7 linked regions of the Homo sapiens genome follow. The protein of the gene in region 4 interacts with the protein of the main gene of each other region in a biochemical or structural test. Each region holds a gene or a part of one and is shown on either strand. Other genes may lie near its edges. The genes, in order: PARD3, RHPN1, TJP1, GHRHR, PDZRN3, DLG1 and MPDZ.

Region 1 (3,500 bases), on a different chromosome or scaffold from region 4:
TGTTGATGTTAGAATTCTTTAGAGGCTCTCTGAACCCATATACCTTTTTCTGCTGATTTTGTATGATCAGGATTTGTTATTTTTTGTGAATAAACACCATTAGTGAACATTAAATATATTGATAACTTCAGAATTTCCTCATAAAAAGGGAGATAAATGAATTATATTTATTTATTTTTACTCCCATTGTTACTGTTTTTCTTGTCGTTTAGAATATATGATTACACCAAAAAAATCCCGAACTCTAGAAATCTACTAGTCTTTAGTCCTTCCACTACATTTTCCCTCTATCTTTCTCAAATCTGATTTAAGTTTGGTTCAATATTGAATAATTGCTACATAAAAATATTAACAGCTGGTTCCAAGAATCTTCTGGAGTGGGTGCAGATGTAGTGTTTTCATGGATCTTGCTGTGGAACCTTCATGGAAATATTTTGCCTCTTATGATTAAGGAACTGCTCATTAGCAGTCTTTAAAAATAACTTTGAGAAAGAAACATTGGACTATAATGTGCTGTGCAATTTTGTTCCCTATTAGAAAGCAGAAGATGAGGATATTGTTCTTACACCTGATGGCACCAGGGAATTTCTGACATTTGAAGTCCCACTTAATGATTCAGGATCTGCAGGCCTTGGTGTCAGTGTCAAAGGTAACCGGTCAAAAGAGAACCACGCAGATTTGGGAATCTTTGTCAAGTCCATTATTAATGGAGGAGCAGCATCTAAAGTGAGTGTCAACTTTATCATGCGTATGCCTATTAACAAAAATTTTAATTTCAACCCTGTTCCTATTTTGGAAACATATACAGTTAACAGAAGTTTTCTCATTTCTTTATGGTACCCACATTCACATTTAAACAACTAGGTGTATCAGTGATGTGTCACGTGGGGATGGAGTCCATAACTTCAACCTTTCATTTTTTCTCTCACAGAACATACAACCCATTGACATGCTAGTTAAATGAAGTTAATCAATGCAAAGACTTGGCATAGGTCCTGTCACAGAATGGGCGTATAGTAGACGTTAATCTTTCCCCTCCCCTCCCCTGTTTGTGGGTCACTTACTCTATTTCTCAGCCTAGAGAAAATTTCCTGGCCATTTGTTAAGGGGACAGTTCTCTGCAACTGTCTAATAGCCTTGAGCTTTTACATGTCTTGGTTTCTAAATAACCTCTATGGGTGTTTCTGGAAGCAAGAAAGTAATCACTTTGTGTCCTTTGAATTAGTATGCTATTTTGGTAAACAGATTATGATAATGACTTGATTTACAAATGTATAAATGATTGAAATAGACACAGGCTACAATAGCTGCTTAGACGTTATTATGCCAGCGTTCAATTGGGCATAATCCATTAGGATTAAAGCTCCCCACTTTTTTTTTTTTTGCTTTGTTTTTATTTTATTTATTAACTAAAGGAAAAGCTACTTCTTTTATAGCAGTCTGTTTAATAGCACTTATTTTTACCTGTTTTCTTCCCAGGATGGAAGGCTTCGGGTGAATGATCAACTGATAGCAGTAAATGGAGAATCCCTGTTGGGCAAGACAAACCAAGATGCCATGGAAACCCTAAGAAGGTCTATGTCTACTGAAGGCAATAAACGAGGAATGATCCAGCTTATTGTTGCAAGGAGAATAAGCAAGTGCAATGAGGTAAGAAATGCAAAAAAGTGCTAGTATCTAAAATTGTAAATAAACTACATTTCTGTCCTAATTTTGGGCAAAGGGTATTAGGTTCCAGGACCTTACATCAAAAGACCATAAATTATCTTTGCTTATTGTAGTTTTATTATTTTGTAGGTGGATTGTGGTTTGTGTTCTTAATTCTTGTGATCAACATATTCCTAAGTGGACATTAATACTCCTATTGCCAACTCAGCAGGAAACACTGGGATCTCAAAAGCCCCTTTAGCTGAATTTTTTCTTGAAATCAGGGTCACATCTTCCTTCTCAGAGCCAACAGTTTCTCTTCTAGTTGGCAGAGTTATACCTGGGAGGTGAATCATGCAGAGAAACAGTTGCTTATTCATTTATTTAAAATGGGATGCCTCTTACAAAGCCCCTAGTAGGGAACAGTCTTTCCTTCCCTGTCCTTTCTTTTTTATTTGAGACAGGATCTCACTGTGTTGACCATGCTGGAGTTCAGTGTTGTGGTCACAGCTCGCTGCAGCCTCCATCTTCTGGGCTCAAGGGATTCTCCTGCCTCAGTCTGCCAAAGTCCTGGGATTACAGGCACGCGCCATAGCACCTGGCCCACAGTCTGGCTTTCTTAGATGATGGTGTTCTCTTGTGAGATTATCAATAGCATATACCTCCCTCTCTTTCCTCAGTCCCCATTTTCTCTTTCTCTATGGGATTGAGTCTGTTCTCTTAGAATGCCTCCTTTTTCAGTGATCTGTATTGTATTATACTCTGCTTGTTCTAAATGTATGTTGCAGTTTGGAATTAGGGGTGAGGAGGACACAGGGCATCCTCTCTTGAAAGGTAGGATCATCTATTTTCCCAAATATGGAAAAACATACTTTGTTGTATAATAGGACATTTGAAAGTTAAAAATAAATTATATGTTGCCTTGATAATATTGGAGCTTGAAAAAAGCTAAATTTCATGGATCCATTATAAATTATGTGCCAACTGTAGAAAATAGGTCAGACTTGCCCATGTGCAAAATGAGCTGTTGAAAATGTGAAGTTTTTCTTAAATCAATGTTCAGATTCCCACATTTTAAGATCAAATCAACTAAGATAAAATGATTAGCAAATAATACAAACTGAAAATTATACCTAAGTTGTTTAAGAGTTTTTCTTAATTTTTAAACTTCTGTTTAATAAACACATAAAGCACCGTTTTCAGGTTGCAGTGACCACTCATCTGAACCTATGATACAAGCATATTTTACAGAGAAAATATACTCTCGAGCTCAGTTGGTAGTCAATATAGAGGTGACGTATTCTGAAAGATCACTGACCACTGAATTATTTTGTTGTTTTTATTTGCCAAATGTAGAATGAGTTAACAGTAATCAACAAATTAATTGCGATATCAAGAGAACAACATAACCTTAACTAAAAAATCTCAGAGTGGAGAAGAGTGGGACATACAAACATTCATTTATGTAAGATAAATATAAAAGCTAATCCCTCACAGTAGGATGCTGGACTGATATTTTTTTCTCTTTTCCGTCCCTCCTGGACTGATTGAATAGTAGTTTTTACTCATTGCAAAATCATTAGCTGATCTTTTAACTTAAGTCCCACAAAGCACTATATGAAAACATCTCAACTGTAAGTTTACAAAACATATCATTCTCTTTTAGGCCTTTTTATTTTGGCCACCTGAATACTTTCCCATTACACAGGACAGTTTTCATTCCACAGATATTTATTGAGCATCTTATGTGTATCAGAAAATGTGTTAGATCCTGAGGACATAGCAGTGAATAAGACAGATGGCATGCATTCTACTGGACAACGTATCACCTTAGTCTTTTAGAGACCAATTAA
Region 2 (3,500 bases), on a different chromosome or scaffold from region 4:
GTTCCCGCAGCTGGGCCTCCCCTCCCCAGGGTGCCTCCGCCCGCAGAGCCCCTACCAGTGGAAGAAGAGCCCGAGGCTCCTGGCAGGGGTGAGGAAGCGCGCATCCAGGAAGCACAGCTGGTTGTAATAGGCTGTGAGCAGCTCCAGGCCCGACTCATTCCGGCTGGGGGTCCGCATGGCCTGCAGGGCAGGAGCCACTGGGCCCCACCGCCCTGGCCCACCCCACTCACACACACTGCCCTGGGAAGTCCCATGGGCACCAGCACCATGGGGGGCGGGGAGGCAAAGCCAGTGGGGCCCTGGGCAGCCGTGACTCCCGAAGGCCAGCAGCATGCGGCACCGGAGCCACCTGGGAGCCCCTCCACGCCCCCTGGCTGGGTCTGGACACACAGGGCCCCTGGTGCGCCCGTCTCCCCACGTCCTCGAGATGTCTACGCTGAGCTCCTCTGTCTGTTCCTGACTTCAGCTTCAGCCTCCGCATGTGTCTCCCAGGGCTGCAGGAGGGTGGGTGGGCGGGGGAACCACACACCTGCCGCAGGGCCTCCAGCTCCCTGATTTCTGCCTCGTAGGAGGCGCCGTCCTCTCCAAAGTGCACTGAGATCAGCTCCTGATGGGGGGCAGGTGTTGGCATCCACAGTACCCCTGTGCCTGGCCTCCTTCCCTGAGGTCTCCCAACCCACCTTGGGAAAAGACTCATGGTGGAGGGAGGGTCTGTGCCGCAGAGCAGGCTGGCTGCCATGCAGCGTGGGGGCCCTGGGCCCCTCAGTGGAAGCCCCAGAGAAGGGCTGGGGGCCAATGTGTATGGAGGGGCCTGGTGGGTTGATGCGGGTCGGAGCCCCTGTGGCCCTGGGGTTTCCCCACCCCATCACAGAAGCGGGGCCTGGAGACTCAGCGCTACTTTTACGTGCGTTTCCTTATTCATCCCCGTGGCCGGGAGGCAGGTGCCATCTGCCACTCAGTGACTCGGACACGGAACACAGTCAGTGGCTCCCGTGGGGCCCTGCCAGGCAGTGCCAGTCTGTTCTAGCTCTCCCCAGGACCCTCGTGAGCCAGTGCTGGGTGTGTGGCCCCAAGCCAGTGGTGCCCTCCATGGGCGAGCCTGTACCCTGTGCTCCGGCTGGGGCTTCCAGGCCCCATCCTCCTAGGGCATTGCCCATCCGAGGGTAGGGCACATGTTCACACCCACTCTATGGGATCAGCCCCGGCCTGGGGCGCAGGCACCAGCGGGGCCCTGAACGCAGCAGAGGCTGGGTCCCTGTGGCCATTTCTGCCAGGTCCCTTGCGTCCCTTTTAAGCCTCCCTCCCTCTGGGCCTCAGTTTCCCTATCTGTTCAACCAGACAGCTGGACCAGAAAGCCTCCAAGACCCCCTTGGTCCCAGGGCAGGGCCGTGTATCTCAGAGCTTGGAGGCCAGTACCTACCTTCAGCGGTGTAGACCAGTCCAGCTCCTTGGTCTCCTTCAGGCCCAGGGGGATCATGGGGACAGTGACAGCTTCGCTGTAACCAGAAGCATCGACTTCAGACTGTAAGGCCAAACCCTGCTGCCCACGGCAGCCCGGGGTCCACTCCTAGGGCTCTGTGGCACAGGGTGCCTCCCTCCCTCATGGGTGTGCACGTGCGCCTGTGTCCTGGGGGGCATCCTTGCACCTGTGCACCACCCCCCACCGTCCTAAACCGCCCCAAAAGCAAACACACACACACAGAGACACACACATGCGCGCGCACACACACACACAAACACATGCGTGCATACACATGCAGACACACATGCGCACGCACACACATATATGCACACACGTGCAGACACACACACGCGCACACACAGACACACACAGACACACGTGCATACACGCACACATAGAGGCAAACACACACCCACATACACGCAGACATGCACACGCACGCAGACACGTGCACACAGACACACGCACAGAGATGCACACACAGACACATGCAGACACACAGACACACGCGCACACAGACGCATGCACACACATGCACACACATATACACACAGAGACACACGCACACACACAGAGATGCACAGACACATGCACACAGACACACGCGCACAGACATGCATGCACACACATGCACACACGCACACACACAGACAATGCACACATATACACACAGAGACACACATGCGTGCACACACATGCACACACACACGCACACGTGCACACACATACACGCACGTGCTGTCCCGGCCCCCACCCGCACCTCCCATGCCGGCCAGGGTCCACGCCACCGCTGAGCTCCTCCAGCTCCTCCTTCAGCAGCTGCAGGTTGGAGTTGACGTAGCTCAGCTCCAGGGCGACCGTCTCTCTCACCCGGTTGTTGCTGGTGGCTCTGAGGGAGGCCGCGGCAGTTGAAAGCCCAGCCCCAAGGCAGAGCCAAAGGCCCCGTGCCCACTGCAGCCGTCCTGCCAGCTGACCTGTCAAAGCTCCAAGCCCACCCTGCAGAGGACGTCGCTGACAGGGTCTGCCCCCCATGGGTGGGGCAGGGGCAGCAGTGGGATCCGGGGGCTCACAGGTGATGCCCCCTACAGTTCATCACCCCGACCCCAGCACCTGCATGTTCCGACTCTGGCCTGGGGGCACCTCCCTCAGCACCACGGCTTTCTTTGGGGCTCATACAGCCCTCGACAGCACTCAAACATCACTCCTTGGATGGTGGGTGAGAGCCACACACCTCTCTGTGCCTGCATCAGGGCCTGGCAAAGGGACCGGAGGTCCCCAGGGAAGGCCAGGATGGGGGCAGGGAGGTAGCAGGTGCTAAGGGGACCGAGGGGCACTCACACGCACATGTGTGGCACACAGGCGGTGTGCTCTAAGGAAGAGGCAGCCCAGGTCTTCCACCCCCTCCCAGGTCCCCAACCTTGGGACGCGCCATCACCTGCCACAGCTCAGCCTCAACCATGCCTCTTCTGAGAAGCCCCCACGTGCACTGTTGGGGCTTCCCAAGCTGCACACCCGGCAGGGACACTGGTTTCCTGGCACCTCCAGCCCAGCACAGAGGCCCACGGAGGCAGGTCTGTGAGGGTCATGGCTGAGCATCACGTGTACTACGTGCCCACCAGGACCCAGCTGCTCATGCACCTGTCTCTGTGACCCGGCCATGGGGCAGACATCTGCCTGCGTGGCTGTCCTGCCCCCCTCACCCAGGTGGGCCCTGCTCCCGGGGCCGGGCAGTCTCAAGCACTGACCTGTAGAGGTTCTCAGCGCCCGTCCGCATCTGCAGCTCCTTGTCAATCTGCTGGTGAATCTGGGCCCTGCGGCTCTGCAGCTGGCCGCACTGGATCTGCGTCAGGGAGTCACAGCCCTGCAGGGAGGCCACAGGCGATCACAGCCCGACCCCGTGGCGCCCGCACCAGGCTGCGCCTCGCCAGCCACTGAGAGGAGTGCATCCTGCCCATGGGTAACGGGATGGTCACCATGCGCTGGGGCTGGAGCTGGCCTCACAGGGAGGGGCTGGACAGAACTAGTGTGAACACAGGCC
Region 3 (3,500 bases), on a different chromosome or scaffold from region 4:
GATCATTTGGCGAGAAACGCTATGAACCCATCCAGGCCACTCCCCCTCCTCCTCCATTGCCCTCGCAGTATGCCCAGCCATCTCAGCCTGTCACCAGCGCGTCTCTCCACATACATTCTAAGGGAGCACATGGTGAAGGTAGGAAGTTCGGAAGTAGACATTTTAACACAGTAATGCTTATGAAGTAAAATTCTGGTGGTTTCTAGGCAAAATGGTTTTTACATTAAAAAATACATGCTTGAAACCTTTGGGCTGGGAACAGTAAAAACTAAGAATTTTGTTAAAAGTATGTCTCCTGTTTTTACAAGACCATTATTTTGGACAAGCCTTTTAGCTAAACAGATTTTAATCTATTTTATGCTAGTCTCTAAATCTTCTGGAAGTAGTGTTTGCCAGTATATGTAAAGATGGTTTGTAAAACCTACTATGTTTTATCTCACACACCCAAATAGAAAAGCCATAATGTTTCATATAAAATGTATCCCATACACCTTGACTTTTGCATTTACATACCAGGTAGATCACATATAGCTCCAGATTATTCATCTTAAGAGCTTTGTAACATTTTACCCTCAGCATATAACACAAAGTGGTTATCTCTTCTGCTGTGGACAGGCATTTTCCTAGCACAGACTTCTCTTATTATTCCCTTAGGAGGCACCTCCTTGGGCTTGTGAGTCTTCAAGCAGATGTGTTATAGTTCTGGATTGAGGCTATCTTTTATTAAGATTTTTTTTCACACATGCCCATGTTTACAGATAAAGACAGTTTTAATTCTTACTTTCCAGTCCTTATGCCTTTTCTCTTTTTTTTTTTCCTCTTTTTGAGACGAAGCCTTGCTCTCGCCCAGGCTACAGTGCAGTGGCGCAGTCTCAGCTCACTGCAACCTCTGCCTCTCGGGTTCAGGTGATTCTCCTGCCTCAGCCTCCTGAGTAGCTGGGACTATAGGCGCACACCACCACGCCCGGCTAATTTTTGTATTTTTTGTAGAGACAGGGTTTCATCATGTTAGCCAGGCTGGTCACGAACTCCTGACCTCAGGTGATCCGCCCACCTCGGCCTCTCAAGAGTGCTGGGATTACAGGCATGAGCCACCGCACCTAGCCTTCTTTCTTTTCTTGCTGATTGCACTGGCCAGGACCTCCAATAAACTCTGAAATGTAAGTGGTGAAATTGGACCTCTTTTGCTAGTTCCTGATTTTAAGGAGGAAGGACCTCATGTTTTATCCTTTAGAATGTTAGCTCTAGGATTTTCGTAGATGTCCTTTATCATGTTTAAGACATTCCCTATATTCAGAGTTTGCTGAAAGCAGTCAGATGTTTTTCCTGCATGTATTAAGATGACCATATGATTTTTCTTCTCGTACTGTGGAAAATTATATTACTATATTCATGAGGTATTTGGATTAATAATTCTCCTGTCTTGTAGTGTCCTTAATTATTTCACAGAGTTCAGTTGGTACTGTGTTACACTGTGGCTGGCAGTGCATAAAAAATCCTGTGGTTCCACTTTTTAACCAATGTTTGGCATCATCAGACTTTTCGGTTTTTCCATTCTAGTGGGTGTGAAATAGTATTTAATGCTTTTTGTTGGTTTTGTTTTACATTTTTCTAATTAATAGTGAGTATCCTTATTATATGATTATTGGGCATTCTAGTTTTCACAAAGACTAGTGCCAATCTTTGGAGGCCAGGAATCTTAGCAGCTGGACCCTGACTCCAGGGCAGCAGGGTATATATATTCATGGCACCACCTGTCCATGCTGCCCTCATCCCTCAGCATCACACCTAGCCTCCAGGGCTCAAGAGTCAGGCTCTGGCTGTGCGACCCACATTTGGGCCTCGACTCCAGCACCAGGACAAGTTAAGCTGGGACAGGGCTATTATAACTTTTTTCAGAAAGTTATTTAAATGCTTACGTTTGTTTTTCAGGTAATTCAGTGTCATTGGATTTTCAGAATTCCTTAGTGTCCAAACCAGACCCACCTCCATCTCAGAATAAGCCAGCAACTTTCAGACCACCAAACCGAGAAGATACTGCTCAGGCAGCTTTCTATCCCCAGAAAAGTTTTCCAGATAAAGCCCCAGTTAATGGAACTGAACAGACTCAGAAAACAGTCACTCCAGCATACAATCGATTCACACCAAAACCATATACAAGTTCTGCCCGACCATTTGAACGCAAGTTTGAAAGTCCTAAATTCAATCACAATCTTCTGCCAAGTGAAACTGCACATAAACCTGACTTGTCTTCAAAAACTCCCACTTCTCCAAAAACTCTTGTGAAATCGCACAGTTTGGCACAGCCTCCTGAGTTTGACAGTGGAGTTGAAACTTTCTCTATCCATGCAGAGAAGCCTAAATATCAAATAAATAATATCAGCACAGTGCCTAAAGCTATTCCTGTGAGGTAAGACTTATGCCTTTGCTCAAAGCATTGGCCCTGTGATTTTTCTCATGTGAGTTTGTTGTAGTTTATTTGACTTGGGACTTTAAAGTGATCTTTTTAACTCAACCTTTAAACTGAAGAGTGTTGTTGCAATGAATGCTGTTACATAGAAGGTCCTCCAGGAGGTACAAGATGTTGGTAAAATAATAAAGCTAACAGTCGTGTATGGTTGGTAGGTATTGTCATCATCCCTGTTTTACTAAGAACTGAGGTTGAGTGACAGTAAGCAGTTTGCCCAGGGTCACAGCTAGAGTGAGGTGAGCCTCAATTTAGCTGCTGGTCATCCGACCTCTGAGCCCATGCTTTTTTTTTTTTTTTTTTTTGAGACAAGAGTCTCCCTCTGTCGCCCAGGCTGGAGTGCAGTGGTGCGATCTTGGTTCACTGCAACCTCCACCCCCTGGGTTCAGGCAATTCTCCTGCCTCAGCCTCCTAAGTAGCTGGGACTACAGGTGTGTGCCACCACGCCTGGCTAAATTTTTTGTATTTTTAGTAGAGGTTTTCACCATGTTGGCCAGACTGGTTTTGAACTTCTGATCTCAAGTGATCCATCCGCCTCCACCTCCCAAAGTGTTAGGATTACAGGCGTGAGCCACTGCACCCAGCCAGGAGCCCATACTCTTAACCAGCCATGACCTTTTGTAACCTCCTGACCTACTGGTAAGGTGCATGTGGAGGACATCTAAAAACATTAAGTATCTATGTTCCTCATTCATTATTTGTTCCACAATGATGCTAAGAAGAAAAATAGAATAACCTCTGACTGTTTAAAGAGCAGCAGTTAGTGAGATGGCTGAGCAAATGAGACAAAGTGAGCCCACCTGGAGCCTCCCTGCAGCTCCTCTTTCCTGTCTTTCATTCCACGGCGATTGACCAGATGGATTCTGGCCATACATAAAAGCTCATCTCAGCCTCCTACAGCCAGTTCCATTTTCACGCCACCATAAAGCAGAAGCACTTGCAGGCAGGGAGAACCAAAGGTCAGGATGGCCACCTGAGTCTGCTTTCCAAGAGAAAGGATGGTTATGGCGGTCACTGCCTTCCTAGCTCTGCA
Region 4 (3,038 bases):
CAGCTCTGAAGCACCCAGGTCCTGGCCCCCAGGTTCTATGCAAGGTCTCTGTGGCCGCCTCCCATTTCGCCACCATGACCAACTTCAGCTGGCTGTTGGCAGAAGCCGTCTACCTGAACTGCCTCCTGGCCTCCACCTCCCCCAGCTCAAGGAGAGCCTTCTGGTGGCTGGTTCTCGCTGGCTGGGGTGAGCACTGAGGGCGGGTTGGGCACCATGGGGAGGTAAAGGGCTGGAAAGGCCCAGGGAGTTTACATAAAGGCCCCTCCACCTCACTCTGAGGCCCAGAGAAGGAGAGGGACAGGCCACAGTCCGGCAGCAAGTGTTGGAGGGTGGGACCAGGGCCCTGGCTCTGGGGTCCTGCCTGGCCCTGCCTTTGCAGTGCCCTACGTGGCTGATGGTGGTGGTGGGAGGTGGCGCCAGATCTCAGAGTCAAGGATGCAGACTCCCTCGCTTGTGTCTTCCCTGTACTCCTGTAGGGCTGCCCGTGCTCTTCACTGGCACGTGGGTGAGCTGCAAACTGGCCTTCGAGGACATCGCGTGAGTCGGAGCGGCCACCTTGTCATACCCGCTGGTCCTACATGGGGTGTGGAGTGGACAGTCAGGCCATGGGCTGTTCTCCAGGCTGGGAAGAGGAGGAGAAGGGACTGCCCGGCTAGGATGGGGGGTGGGAGAACAGTCTGTGAGTAGCACAGAAGGGGCATGAGCCAGGCAGGAGAGTGGAGCTCAGATTCCCAGGGCTGTGGGGCTGGGGGAAGGTGGGGTGAGGGAGCTGCCAGGGGGCCAGCAAGGAGGCATTGAACAGAGTTCAGAAACGTTTGTCCATCTAGGTGGATAGAAAGGGTGAGCCCAGCCTGGATTGGGGTGCCCCTTTGGGTGAGACCTTAACTGGCTGAGACAGGAGAAAAGGCTGGAGGGGAGGTGGGTGAGACCAGAAGGCATGAATGCCTGAGAGGGAGGTGCCTGCGTCACCACAGTGAAGGGGACTTTCCAACAACGGCCTTCTTTCCTCTCTCCCCAGGTGCTGGGACCTGGACGACACCTCCCCCTACTGGTGGATCATCAAAGGGCCCATTGTCCTCTCGGTCGGGGTCAGTCCCTGGGCCAGTGCCCTTTGCTTTATTCAGTCAACTTCCCTGGAACTACTGACGGGCTGTGCACAGCAGGAAATGCAACTCCAGGCTGGGTGTCTTGAAAACTGGGCTCCAGCCTTGCTCTGCCACTGATTCTCTGTGAGGCCCTCTCTGGGCCTCAGTATCCCATTGGTAAAACTAGAGGGGTGGTGGTCTCCATCAGCATGCAGGCTGTTCCAGCTCAATTTTGATGAGCCTAATGTGCTGGTTGCAGATCATTTACCACCACAGTGAGAGACTAGGGGTGCCGGGTGGGGGCAGTAAATGGAGTCTGCAGCTAAACCCCTCTCCTCCCTCTGCTCTCACACACAACACAGAGGCAGTGAAGACTGCTTTGCATGGCTTTGGTAAATGTACAAATGTTTTGCAACTTAGCAACTGTGCAAAGTGAGGGACATCTGCTTTGTGCTAGAGAAGAGCCTGGGAGGTGGCTGGAGGCAGGTGGCAAGGCCTGATCGCCCCCCTTGATCCCAGGACTTGGTCCTTCTCTGTCCAATGCTCAAATGTGGGACCCCCGCCCCCCCATCTCCAGGCTACCAGTTCTGGAGCAATGATCTGTGCATTCATTCACCTGCACATTCTCACGTCTCAAGGATTTAAATTTTCTAGTCCCCAAATGGGCTGGGGCTCACCCCAGCCACCCAAGGCTACCCCCTGACCCTTGTCTTCCACCTTCCTATGCCTCTATTTCCAGGTGAACTTTGGGCTTTTTCTCAATATTATCCGCATCCTGGTGAGGAAACTGGAGCCAGCTCAGGGCAGCCTCCATACCCAGTCTCAGTATTGGTACTGTGTGTTTGTGTCTGGGGATACTGGGAAAGGGTAACTGGAGGGGGATTCAATGTGTCTGTCTCATCCAATAAGCACTCATGACCTCAGCCCCATACTCTTTCTTCCCTATGTTCCCAGAGACAGAATAGACCTGGCCCCTTCCTTCTAGGGGATCACAATATTGGAAGGATGAGGACTCCAAACAGCCAGCTCCCATGCCAAATAGAACGATGAGTGCTGGGATCAATTTCTATGGGAGCCTGGGGAGAGGGATCCTTTCTAGTTGAAGGGTGGTGTGGTCAAGGAAGACTTCCTGGAGGAAGTGGTTTTGATCCACACTTTGAAAGATGCATAGACTTTGGGATAAACTGGGGCAATAACAGTTGGTAGGGGAATCAGCAGGATCCAGCGCCCAGAAATAAAAAAGCCCAGAGTGATTGTGGGGAGGTGGCGTTTCCCAAGGTGGCTGTTCCACAGAGTGGATATAGGGAGGTGGTAGGAAGTGAGAGGAGATGAAGTGCACACGACAGTTTCTAATCCCAGTCTTGGGAGCCTAGGATTTGTCTTTCCTGCAGGCGTCTCTCCAAGTCGACACTTTTCCTGATCCCACTCTTTGGAATTCACTACATCATCTTCAACTTCCTGCCAGACAATGCTGGCCTGGGCATCCGCCTCCCCCTGGAGCTGGGACTGGGTTCCTTCCAGGTGAGGGCCCCCACAGGCACTCTTTCTTTCCATTGAGGGTGCTGGAGGGAGGTGCTGTTGCCCACGGGCCTTGGCTGAGTTCATGACAGGGTGAGGGCTATGTTTTTCATCCATCTATTCAAATATCTGTCTGTCTGTCCATCTTCCAGCCACCCATCTACGTATTCAACTACCCATGCATTCTTCCATCCATCCATCCATCCATGCATCCATCCATCCATCCGTGCATCCATCCATCCATCCATACATCCATCTACCCACCCACCAACCCATCCATCCATCCATCCATCCACTCACCTAACCACCTACCCACCCACCCATCCACCCACCCATTCATCCACCCACCCACCCATCTATACATCCATCCACCCACCCACTCATCTATCCATCCATCTATCCATCCATCCACCCATCCATCCAATCTATTCAACT
Region 5 (3,500 bases), on a different chromosome or scaffold from region 4:
TAATGGTCCTAATGGCTTGTGAGCTCCTTAAGGGCAGGCAGAGTGGTGACTTCGTGATTTTGCATTTCTAGGGCCAAACAGTATATTTAATGTAAGAGACAATAAAATGAACAGAATTGAAAATAAACACGAATATAAAGTCTGATGGCATCCAAGGTCTAGCTTAAAATATTAATACCAGACTAGTTTTCTAAACACCTGCGTTGTGTCTGCTTTTATTCATGAAAAGAGAGAAGCAGTCTTAGGAACACAGTGTCACATGCCTACGAGGGGCTCAGTCGTTCCTAGGCCCTGATAATGTTACACTGCAGGGACAGTGTGGACAATATTCGTGACTTGGCGGCACATCTCGACACTGCAGTGAATGAAAGGCACCACAAAAGCCTCGCTGGTGTGACTCAAGAGAACAAGAGGAAATGATAGCTTGGGCTGCTTTATCTGGGTCTGTGGCCTGTAGGTCAGGGGTCCTCTGGCTTTAATGGGCACCGAGGTACCTAGGAACCTTGTTAAAGTGCAGATTCTGATTCTGAAGATCTAGGGGGCCAAGTTTCTGTAGTTCCCACATCTCCTAGGTGAGAACTCTACTTTGACCAGCCAGGCTGCTGGTCCTCCTACCACACTTTGAACAACAGGGTTCTAGGGAACAGTTTCTGAGTGGCTCCCTCCTGCTGAAAGCAGGATGCTCTCAGGTGCTTCATGCTTTGAGGAGAAAGACTCAGTCTGGGCTAGTCTTAACACTTCTTTAATACTAGCTAATCTCCTTAGAGAAAAGGCAGGATGTAGTGGCCCCAGGCTCCCAACCCTCAGCAGGCACCCTTATTGAGCACCAGGATTTAATAAATAACACTGGCTTGTGTCCACTGTATTTAATTGTATGGGATTTTCTATTTAAGGCAATGGATGCTGACTTTCTGCTTGACGCAGTGGTATAGTGTTTCCTTTAAAATAAAATTACCGTAGTTTAAATAAGTTGAGTCGAATTAAAGAGAAATAGAAAGCACGTAAGAGTTCTGGTGATAGTCAGGTATAAGGAAAAACTGTAAGGCAGAATGGCCCAAATTGGGCAGATACTGTGGGGGCTCAGTGAATCTCCTGAAACCATATGCAAGCTCTCACAGACAGGAGCATTTTTCCAGAGCGGGGGGCTGTAGGTTCCATCAGATTCTCAAAGGTATTAGAAACTAAAAAAAGAACTAAAGAACCCACTGCTACAAAGTCAAGTTTAACTAAATACCAAAGACTACAAAGTCTCTACTACTTCATAACTCTAGCTTCTGAAACACTTTACAGCTTTTTAAAAGAACTCTACTTTGCCACAATTACATCATCAAAAAGCAGTGTCGTCCCATAAAGATTACGAAATAGCCCTCTGTTTGGAGAGCAGTGTTTCTCCAACAGTGTTCCAGAGAACTGTAGACTGAGGAAATATAAACAGGTACTTGGCCAGAGAGGTGGGGGAAATTCTGCCCACTCCCCCAGGGGATTCTAGGTAGATAGTCAAGATTCTCAGAAGTCCTCCAAGAAATCTGTTTCGTTGTCTTCAGTCTGGCATTTCCCAAATGTATTTCATTATGAACCCCCTTTGGAAGGAACATACATAACAAATTAAGGAACAAGTGTCCTGAAGGAGTCACGGCTGCTTCACCAAACAGCCCTGAAGCTGGGGTGATAGGACACTAAATAAGAGGCAGAATCCTGATTTTTGAAAATGACAAAACTACATTTTCTGGAACAATTGTTAAATGGCAAGCGCTTTGGTAAGTGGCTGACAGCAAGCAGAAACAGTCAAGTTTTTATAGTGAGAATACTGGCCATTGCTGTTTAGACCAGGTGCATTTAGGGAAAATTTTAAATTTCTGAAAACTGGCACAGAGTCAGTCATGCCACTGGCAACAAGTCCTTTGATTTGACTGTATCTGGCTAACCATCAGTGAAGTCATCGTTTGCACACAATTATTGATTTTTAACTTCTGTCTTGGAATGAGAACTCTTGGTAACTTTAAGTTGAGGAACATAGCTGTTTTCTACTATTTGACTGCTTCTGTCCTTGCACAGAACCTACTGCCACTGAACAATTCAACTTCAGAAGTATTGGTAGGACAGCATAGATTACACAACAGTTAGCCATGAAATTGGATAAAATGTTCGATTTTTCCTGGGTGACCTTTTGATGGTACCCAAGGGCTTACCTGTCAACATCAGGTGTCTTTTTACCTTATTCCATAAAATCAGCTTTCAAAAATGCTGTTATATTTTTTGAAACCCCATTGAAATATAAAAGTGTTTTCCCCAAAATATAAATATATTATACAAGTTAGTGTTTTCTGTATTTTCTATCACCCTTAATAAAAGGAAAATGGGAAGTAGAACTCTGTTGGCAACCTGGTGTCCTCTAAATATTTTAAACCTTAACAGAGACCTATTTGACATTATGTAGCATCTTGAATCTTTATTCCTGTGTGGCCTCAAATAACACTTAAGAAGAGTTGCAGACTTGTTTAATTTCTTCTGTATCAATGTTAGCAAACTTGAAGCAAGTGAAGCAGTGAACAAACCCTTTTGTTAGGGCGGGCTAGCATTCACTCAAGTAATTTATCCACCTACTCTTGAGCCATCTGCCTTTGAGTAAAGAGTGGTGATGACATAAAAGGGAGGAAGGTGAGGAGGCTTATGTTAGTTACAAGAATGTATGGATTATGTGGATTCAAAGGTTGACAACAGGATTTACTGTCCTAACTTTTAAGTGATTCAAATTAAAAAAAGTTTACATTTCTGCTTTTGGGACTTGATTATTAAGCTCTGTTTCCAAGGAAGGAAGAAGAATCTCAGTTGTGCCTTTCAAAGGGCATCAGTAAAAGTGGTTCTGCTTTTGTTACTTTCCATCGGCATCCGTAAACTAATTTATGCTTATAGAGAACTTATTAGGCATTCTGTGTTCTTAATAATGACTCCTAAAATGAGACAAGGATGTTCTTCATACCTCCAGCTCCAGCTCCTCCCTGTCCATCTCCTGATGGATGTCTCCAATGTAGTCATTTGGATCGTAGTATTCATGGGCTGAGGGATGCCTGAAAAGAGATGCAACATCTTTACAGCCCTTCTTCCGTTGTCAGTATCTGTTTTTCTTACACCCATTGTCAGGCCAGTGGCACAGTAGCAATTCCCAGGGTGTGGGCCCTTTCATGACTCACTTCCCTCTGGATGGGGCTCTCAGCACGGTCAGGACCTCCATCATCCTAATTTTACCATTTGCCTTTAGTACATTTCCTCCTGAAGGACTTAAGATGCAAAGTGCAAGCCTGATGGGCTTTGTTGTTTGCAGAGCCCATCCCGGAGCCTGCCAGTCACGTGATTCAGCGTGACTGATTTCTAACTCCATCTCTACGCAGGAAACAGGACAATATTTTACTGCTTATTGCTTCATTGTTAGATTTTATCTCTGCAGAGAACTAGGCTCGAGCCCAGGCAACAGTCTAAGATATGTGCTGGCCTCTGAGATC
Region 6 (3,500 bases), on a different chromosome or scaffold from region 4:
TCCACGTATAAATGAAATACAGTATTTGCTTTTCTGTGTCTGGCTTATTTCATATAGCATAAGGTCCTCCACATTCACTCATGTTGGTTGTTGCAGATGATAGGATTTTCATTTTTATGGCCTAATAAAATATTCCATTGTTGTATATATACCATATGCATGCATACATACATACATATATATATATATTTGTTGTTGTTTGTTGTTGGGTTTTTTTGGGGGTTTTTTTTGTTGTTGTTTTTTTTTGAAATGGAGTCTGGCTCTGTCGCCCAGGCTGGAGTGCAGTGGCGCAATCTCGGCTCACTGCAACCTCCGCCTTCCGTGTTCACGCCATTCTCCTGCCTCAGCCTCCCGAGTAGCTGGGACTACAGGCAGCTGCCACCACGCCCAGCTAATTTTTTGTATTTTTAGTAGAGATGGGGTTTCACCATGTTAGCCAGGACGGTCTTGATCTCCTGACCTCGTGATCCACCCGACTCGGCCTCCCAAATTGCTGGGATTACAGGCGTGAGCCACCGTGCCCGGCCTGTTTTTGGTTTTGTTTGTTTGTTTTTGAGGCAGGGTTTTGTTCTTGCCCAGGCTGGAGTACAGTGTCATGATCATGGCTCACTGCAGCCTCAACCTCCTGGGCTCAAGCAATTCTCTCTCTTCAGCTTCCTTAGTAGCTGGGACTACAGGCGTGCAACACCACACCTGGCTAATTTTTTATTTTTGTAGAGACAGGGTCTCGCTATGTTGCCTAGGCTGGTCTCAAACTCCTAGGCTCAAGCAATCGTTCTTCCTCGGCCTCCCAGAGTGCTTGGATTATAGGTGCACTGCACCTGGCCTACAATATTCTCTTTATTCATTCATCTTTTTTGTTTTTGGAGATGGAGTTTTGCTCTTGCTGCCCAGGCTGGAGTGCAATGGCATGATCTCAGCTCACCACAACCTCCCGGGTTCAAGCGATTCTCCTGCCTCAGCCTCCTGAGTAGCTGGGATTACAGGCATGTGCCACCATGCCCAGCTAATTTTGTATTTTTAGTAGAGATGGGGTTTCCCCATGTTGGTCAGGCTAGTCGAACTCTTGACCTCAGGTGATCCGCCCGCCTTGGCCTCCCAAAGTGCCGGGACTACAGGCGTGAGCCATCGGGCCCGGCTCATTCATCTTTTGACAGACTCTTAGGTGATTTTCATATCTGGGCTATTGTTGATTATGTTGCAGTGAACATAGGAGTGCAGATTTCAACATACTGATTTATTTTCCTTTGGTTTTCTTTTTGTTGTTGTTGGCTTTTTGTTTTTTATTGTTTTGTTTTGAGACAGAGTCTCACTCTGTTGTCCAGGCTGGAATGCGGGTGTGATCTCAGCTTGCTGCAACCATCGCCTCCTGGGTTCTGTTGATTCTCCTGCCTTAGCCTCCCAAGTAGCAGGGACTAGAGGCACATGCCACCACACCCAGCTAATTTTTGTATTTTTAGTAGAGACAGGGTTACAGGGTTGGCCGTGCTGGTCTCAAACTCCTGACCTCAAGTGATCCGCCTGCTTCAGCCTCCCAGAGTGCTGGAATTACAGGTGTGAGCCACCACGCCTGGCCCAATTTCCTTTCCTTTGTATATATATCGAGTAGTGGGATTGCTAGATCATATAATAACTCAGTTTTTAATTTTTTGAGGTGGCTGGGCACAGTGGTTCATGCCTGTAATCCCAGCATTTTTGGAGGCCCAGGTGGGCAGGTCCCCTGAGGTCAGGAGTCCGAGACCAGCCTGACCAACATGGCGAAACCCCTTTTCTCTACTAAAAATACAAAATTAGCCGGGCGTGGTGGTGCATGCCTGTAATCCCAACTACTTGGAAGGTTGAGGCAGGAGAATTGCTTGAACCTGGGAAGCGGAGGTTGCAGTGAGCCAAGATCGCACAATTGCACTCCAGCCTGGGCAACAAGAGTGAAACTCTGTCTCAAAAATAATAATAGTAATAATAATTTCTTGAGGAATGTCCACACTATTTTCTGTGATGGCTTTACTCATTTACATTCCCACCAACAGTGTACAGGGTTCCCTTTTCTTCATACCATTGCCTACTTGTTATCTCTTATCTTTTTGATAACAGCCATCCACACAGGTCTAAGGTGATATTTCATTATGGTTTGCGTGTGTGTTTGTGACAGAGTCTTGCTCTGTCACCCAGGCTGGAGTACAGTGGCATGATCTCAGCTCACTGCAACCTCTGCCTCCTGGGTTCAAGCGATTCTCATGCCTCAGCCTCCTGAATAGCTGGGATTACAGGCACATGCCACCACACCCGGCTAATTTTTGTATTTTTAGTAGAGACAGGGTTTTGCCATGTTGGTCAGACTGGTCTCAAACTCCTGGCCTCAAGTGATCTGCCCGTCTCAGCCTCCCAAAGTGTTAGGATGGCAGGCGTGAGCCACTGCACCCAGCCTCATTATGGTTTTGGTTTCTGTTGCTCTGATTAATGAGGTTGAGCACTTTTACTGATACCTGCTGGCCATCTGTATGTCTTCTTTGGAAAAATGTCGATTCCAGTCCTTTGCCCATTTTTTAAATGGATTATTTGGTATTTTGCTAATGATTTTCTTATATATTTTGGATATTAACCCCTTACCAATTGCATGTTTGGAAATATTTTCTCCTCTTCCATAGGTTGCCTTTTCATTTTGTTGATTGTTCCTTTGCTGTGTAGATTTTTTATTTAATATCCCACTTGATGATTTTTTATTTTGCTGCCTGTGCTTTCCAAAAAATCATCCAAGACCAGTGTGAAGGCGCTTTTTTCCCTGTGTTTTCTTCTAGGAGTTTTATGGTTCTGGTTTTACATTTAAGTCTTTAGTCTATTTCAAGTTAATTTTGTATAAGATAAGGGTTTAGTTTCGTTCTCTTGCATGTGGATATCCAGATTTTCCAGCACCATTTATTTAAGACACTAGCCTTTCCCTATTGTGTAGTCTTGGCCCCTTTTTAATGATTAGTTGCCCTTTGATCCGTTTTGAAATACTATTTGTTTAAAAAAAAAAAAAGTAGGTAGCAACTCCCCAATATTCTTATTTTACTCGCCTTGTCCTTTAACTTCCTCCTCAAGTCTTTGGACATTTTTGTTGTTGTTACTTGTTTGTTTGAAATAATATCAGCCTAAATTTGACATTCACACTGAGTATCAGTAAGGGTCATGGTTTTTAAACCTTGTGCTTTCTTATTTTTTTCAAACTAATTTCAGACTTAAATAGAAGTTACAAGAATAGTACAGGGAGTTTCATGTACCCTTCACCCAAATTCCTCAAGTGTTAACATTTTACCACATTTATAGGTTTTTTTCTGATACACTTGAGAGTAAGTTTCAGGTAGATGTCCCTTTACTTCTAAATATTTCAGTGTGTATTTTCTAAAAAACAGGGATATTCCCTTATAGAATCATAGTTTTATTATCAAAATCAGGAAATTTAATAATTATATGTCTCATCTAACTATAGATCTTATTAGTATTTCACTATTCTTCTAATC
Region 7 (3,500 bases), on a different chromosome or scaffold from region 4:
ATTTTTATGTATATTGTTGAGTTTCCATGGAGTTTCAATTTGAGCCTATTTTCCTTTAAATATAATGAAACCTCAAATTGGACAAAAATATTTAATGACCTGTTCCTGTAGGGAGTTTTGAAAAGAAATGATCAACTGTTAACCATTTGGCATTACCTCAGGCCATAAACTAATAAGCCAGCTGCTGACCACTATTAATGAATGTTTAGGGGAAAAGAGGGTGGTTAAAATTTGCAAGCTTACCTTTGCAAACACTGTTTTAACATAAATGGGTAAGTCTCCATGAGGGCTGCCATATCCTCCAACTATACTGAAGCCTAAGCCATCTGGTCCTCGCTCTAGTGTAATAGACTTACATTGAGGAGGTCTACGGTGAAGGAAAGGAAAAAGAGGTTTTAAATTAAAAAAAAAAAACTATACATATATGTTATGAATTATCTGACATCCACCTAGAGCTAGCATAATTCTCTTTGTTACTGACAAGGAGTATATTACGGGTATTTTTGAGATGCTTAAATTGTCAGTGCATGCTGTGCTTGGTATTTTAAATTTACATAATCTAATGAAATCCTACTTAACACCCTAATTCTATTACTCATTTACAGTTCCCTTAAACTAACATATTCATGGCATGTTCTCATTGTACAGAGAAGCTCATTCTTTTTCCAGTTTATTTAAAGTGAGAGGGCTAAAGTTCAGGGGACTATATTAGAATAAGTCATAAACATCAGTACGCCCAAGCTCAGAGAGAAAAATCAATTATAAGCAATGGAAAAGCTGCATCAAATTATTTAAAATTTCTAATGCGCCTCTCTCTTCTCCTCTGTTTTCCAATGCTTTTGTATCCAAGTATTGTTACTTAATACTGTGAATTTTTTCAGTCCAAATGATAATATATTAGATGAATAGGCAGTGCGGGAAATTTTAAAATGATAGATTTGACTTGCTCCATATTACATGAAGTGGTAACATCAAGACTAAAATGTCCTCCGCCCCAAAATCAGAGCTGAAACCATGGGAAGGGTAGTAGCACGCATATCTATCTAGCTAGTTATCTATCTCTACTTATCTTTGATCAGCTAAATCCATGCCACAATTATTTAAGTTTAGAAGCACCTGATATGTATAATTCACACTTCATATATCCTATCATTTTACCTGTACGTAATTCCTAGAAACATGGGACAGAGAACGCAACTGTCAGGAAGACTTGATTCATAAGTGAAAAATGATACACTAATCATCATGTATGAACTCACCCTAAATCATCCTGAAATATACTGCTTGACGTCAGCCCAGTGAAAGAAAGACTGGAACTTGCAGGCTCCTGCTGATGACCTGTGACCACACTCACGTCTCCTCCAGCAACCACCTGCGCACAGGAGGAGGATAAACAGAAAAAACACATGTTCCTGTGGCTAGGGAAAGTAATTTTTCTTCAGAAAGAGCACTTGGATTAAAATGTATATTTTATTGTTCATTTAAACATTTCTGTTAACATAAAATACAACCAAAGAGAATGAAATTTCACAAGGTCCAGAGGCTCTTAACTGTCCTGACAGTAAACATATTCTTCTAATTCTATTCTACAAAGTTCTTTGATGTTTTTAAAATGTGGTCTCATATGTAATTACTTTTTAAAGATCTTTAGAATATAAGCCACTTGCTAGCACCACTTAAAATTCCAGCAAATAATCATGTACTGCTAAGGCCTGGATTTTTTTCCCCTTAAAGTATAAAACAATCAATGCATCAGAGTAAAATGTTACAAAATATGTCTCATATGCACTTTATTGGAACTCTTAATTTAATCATTTATGTTCAAGAGAAATATTAAATAAAATAATAGCAGAAGATTTAATCATTTTTACTGCTTTAACATCAAAGCTCATGTGTCTTCAGGCTACCTATATTCTGAATTATGCTTGGGATAAAAATCTTACCTGCATTTCAATGGAGCCAGATGCATTTTTCAGTAGGTTAACTGCTTGGGTGTGAGTCATGCCCTCAGTGGATGTGCCACAGATGGTGACAATCCTATCCCCAACCTGCAAGGGAGAGAAAGAAACAGCCATCTGCTAAAGCAGCCATGGAGAGTGGGTCTTTGAGACCTAAGTATTCATTTCCTTCTCCACCTTCCACATGACATATATACTGCTACCAGCCACTGAAATATAACCAAGGAAACCACTAATTCCAAGAAGTCCAAAAAGCAGCAACCACAAAAAGAAGCAGTGCATAATGGTTGAGTTCCATATCCAGGGGAGAGGGAGGGAGAAGGAGAAAGTCACTCTTCCCTGCTCTTCATTTCTCTTGGGTGAGACATTACTTCCTATTAAAAGAAAAAAAAATTCACTATCATTTGGAAACTGAAATTTCTCTGGACATTACTATTATAATCATTAGATGTGACTCTAAGTCGGAGGTTGGCAAACTAAGGCCCAGAGGCCAAATTTGGCCCACTGCCTGTTTTGGTTAATAAAGTCTGGTTGGAAGACAGCCATGCTTATTTGGCTGCTTTCACAGCGCAGAGTTGAGTAGTTGCAACAGAGACTCACAGGTCCCACAAAGCCTAAAATATTCAGTATCTGTCCTTCCAGAAGTTTACTGACCCTGTGCTATGTATACAATCAGGTTTTAAGTGTCAGCCATAAATTTGGATATCAAACGAGGCTGAACCATTCCCAGCCTAAAGACTATTTAAACTAAAATGTGGTTATGTTCTGAGACCTATTTGAGGTATGAAACCATAGAGATTTTGCTTTAGAGAGACTGAGTTGCGTTAATGGAATATTCATGTAATTTTTAGAGCTGGGCAGTTGGCATAAATTCCATTGCAATGCTCCACAATTTGGATAATCCCTCAGCTTTGAGGCAAGTTGCATATAGTTTTATAACATTGTAAGTCATATTTATATTAAACTTCTGCAAAATTATCAGTGAATGCAAATAAGTAATACTTTTCAATTTAACAGAGTTAAATCGGCGTTTAAACCAATCAAATATATAAGATAAAAATTTCACTTCATACTGGTGTTCTGAAAATACTTTCTGTTCTCTTTTAGCTTGTTCCACAGAATTTCAACATATAAAAATATGTATTAGGAAACAACTATAAATCTTCCTATTTAACTGCAAATCTGCATTTTCTCCTTTCTTTTAATATTCTTTATCTTTTATTCCAAGCAAGCCTTGCTGTGGTTGGATTAGATGATTTAAAAGTAAATATAGATATTTAAAACTGCCTTGCAACAGGTAGCCAGGTTCAAAGGTTTATAAAAACACTTCTGCACATTTTGCTAGGGCTTCTAGGGTTGATAGTACGACTCACTCTGAGTTTTTGGGTCTGTGCTGCAACTCCAGTTGGGTGCATCATTGCAATAAATATAGGCACATCACCAAGTGGGCTGCCTACTCCTCCAGCGATGCTGATTCCCAGTGAGTCAGTAGGGCCCTGCCATGGAACAGATATAAAATTTTGGTCAAAGTGATATTTTTCA

Evidence for each region.
Region 1: the proteins of GHRHR (region 4) and PARD3 interact in a test that uses a peptide from one of them, tested with the Homo sapiens proteins (one large-scale study listed by IntAct).
Region 2: the proteins of GHRHR (region 4) and RHPN1 interact in a test that uses a peptide from one of them, tested with the Homo sapiens proteins (one large-scale study listed by IntAct).
Region 3: the proteins of GHRHR (region 4) and TJP1 interact in a test that uses a peptide from one of them, tested with the Homo sapiens proteins (one large-scale study listed by IntAct).
Region 5: the proteins of GHRHR (region 4) and PDZRN3 interact in a test that uses a peptide from one of them, tested with the Homo sapiens proteins (one large-scale study listed by IntAct).
Region 6: the proteins of GHRHR (region 4) and DLG1 interact in a test that uses a peptide from one of them, tested with the Homo sapiens proteins (one large-scale study listed by IntAct).
Region 7: the proteins of GHRHR (region 4) and MPDZ interact in a test that uses a peptide from one of them, tested with the Homo sapiens proteins (one large-scale study listed by IntAct).

The regions. Positions count from the first base shown.
Region 1 is NC_000010.11:34,357,297-34,360,796, reverse strand, and holds part of PARD3 (partitioning defective 3 homolog), read left to right. Parts: intron 1-537; coding exon 538-726; intron 727-1,479; coding exon 1,480-1,650; intron 1,651-3,500. UniProt on the Homo sapiens protein: Adapter protein involved in asymmetrical cell division and cell polarization processes. Seems to play a central role in the formation of epithelial tight junctions. Targets the phosphatase PTEN to cell junctions.
Region 2 is NC_000008.11:143,375,376-143,378,875, reverse strand, and holds part of RHPN1 (rhophilin-1), read right to left. Parts: intron 3,324-3,500; coding exon 3,208-3,323; intron 2,352-3,207; coding exon 2,223-2,351; intron 1,497-2,222; coding exon 1,421-1,496; intron 608-1,420; coding exon 530-607; intron 181-529; coding exon 56-180; intron 1-55. UniProt on the Homo sapiens protein: Has no enzymatic activity. May serve as a target for Rho, and interact with some cytoskeletal component upon Rho binding or relay a Rho signal to other molecules.
Region 3 is NC_000015.10:29,707,469-29,710,968, reverse strand, and holds part of TJP1 (tight junction protein 1), read left to right. Parts: coding exon 1-138; intron 139-1,932; coding exon 1,933-2,410; intron 2,411-3,500. UniProt on the Homo sapiens protein: TJP1, TJP2, and TJP3 are closely related scaffolding proteins that link tight junction (TJ) transmembrane proteins such as claudins, junctional adhesion molecules, and occludin to the actin cytoskeleton.
Region 4 is NC_000007.14:30,973,953-30,976,990, forward strand, and holds part of GHRHR (growth hormone-releasing hormone receptor precursor), read left to right. Parts: intron 1-32; coding exon 33-186; intron 187-476; coding exon 477-537; intron 538-1,018; coding exon 1,019-1,088; intron 1,089-1,824; coding exon 1,825-1,916; intron 1,917-2,476; coding exon 2,477-2,606; intron 2,607-3,038.
Region 5 is NC_000003.12:73,397,942-73,401,441, forward strand, and holds part of PDZRN3 (E3 ubiquitin-protein ligase PDZRN3), read right to left. Parts: intron 3,069-3,500; coding exon 2,981-3,068; intron 1-2,980. UniProt on the Homo sapiens protein: E3 ubiquitin-protein ligase. Plays an important role in regulating the surface level of MUSK on myotubes. Mediates the ubiquitination of MUSK, promoting its endocytosis and lysosomal degradation. Might contribute to terminal myogenic differentiation.
Region 6 is NC_000003.12:197,047,113-197,050,612, reverse strand, and holds part of DLG1 (disks large homolog 1), read left to right. Parts: intron 1-3,500. UniProt on the Homo sapiens protein: Essential multidomain scaffolding protein required for normal development. Recruits channels, receptors and signaling molecules to discrete plasma membrane domains in polarized cells.
Region 7 is NC_000009.12:13,108,693-13,112,192, forward strand, and holds part of MPDZ (multiple PDZ domain protein), read right to left. Parts: intron 3,455-3,500; coding exon 3,332-3,454; intron 2,049-3,331; coding exon 1,944-2,048; intron 1,373-1,943; coding exon 1,260-1,372; intron 368-1,259; coding exon 244-367; intron 1-243. UniProt on the Homo sapiens protein: Member of the NMDAR signaling complex that may play a role in control of AMPAR potentiation and synaptic plasticity in excitatory synapses. Promotes clustering of HT2RC at the cell surface.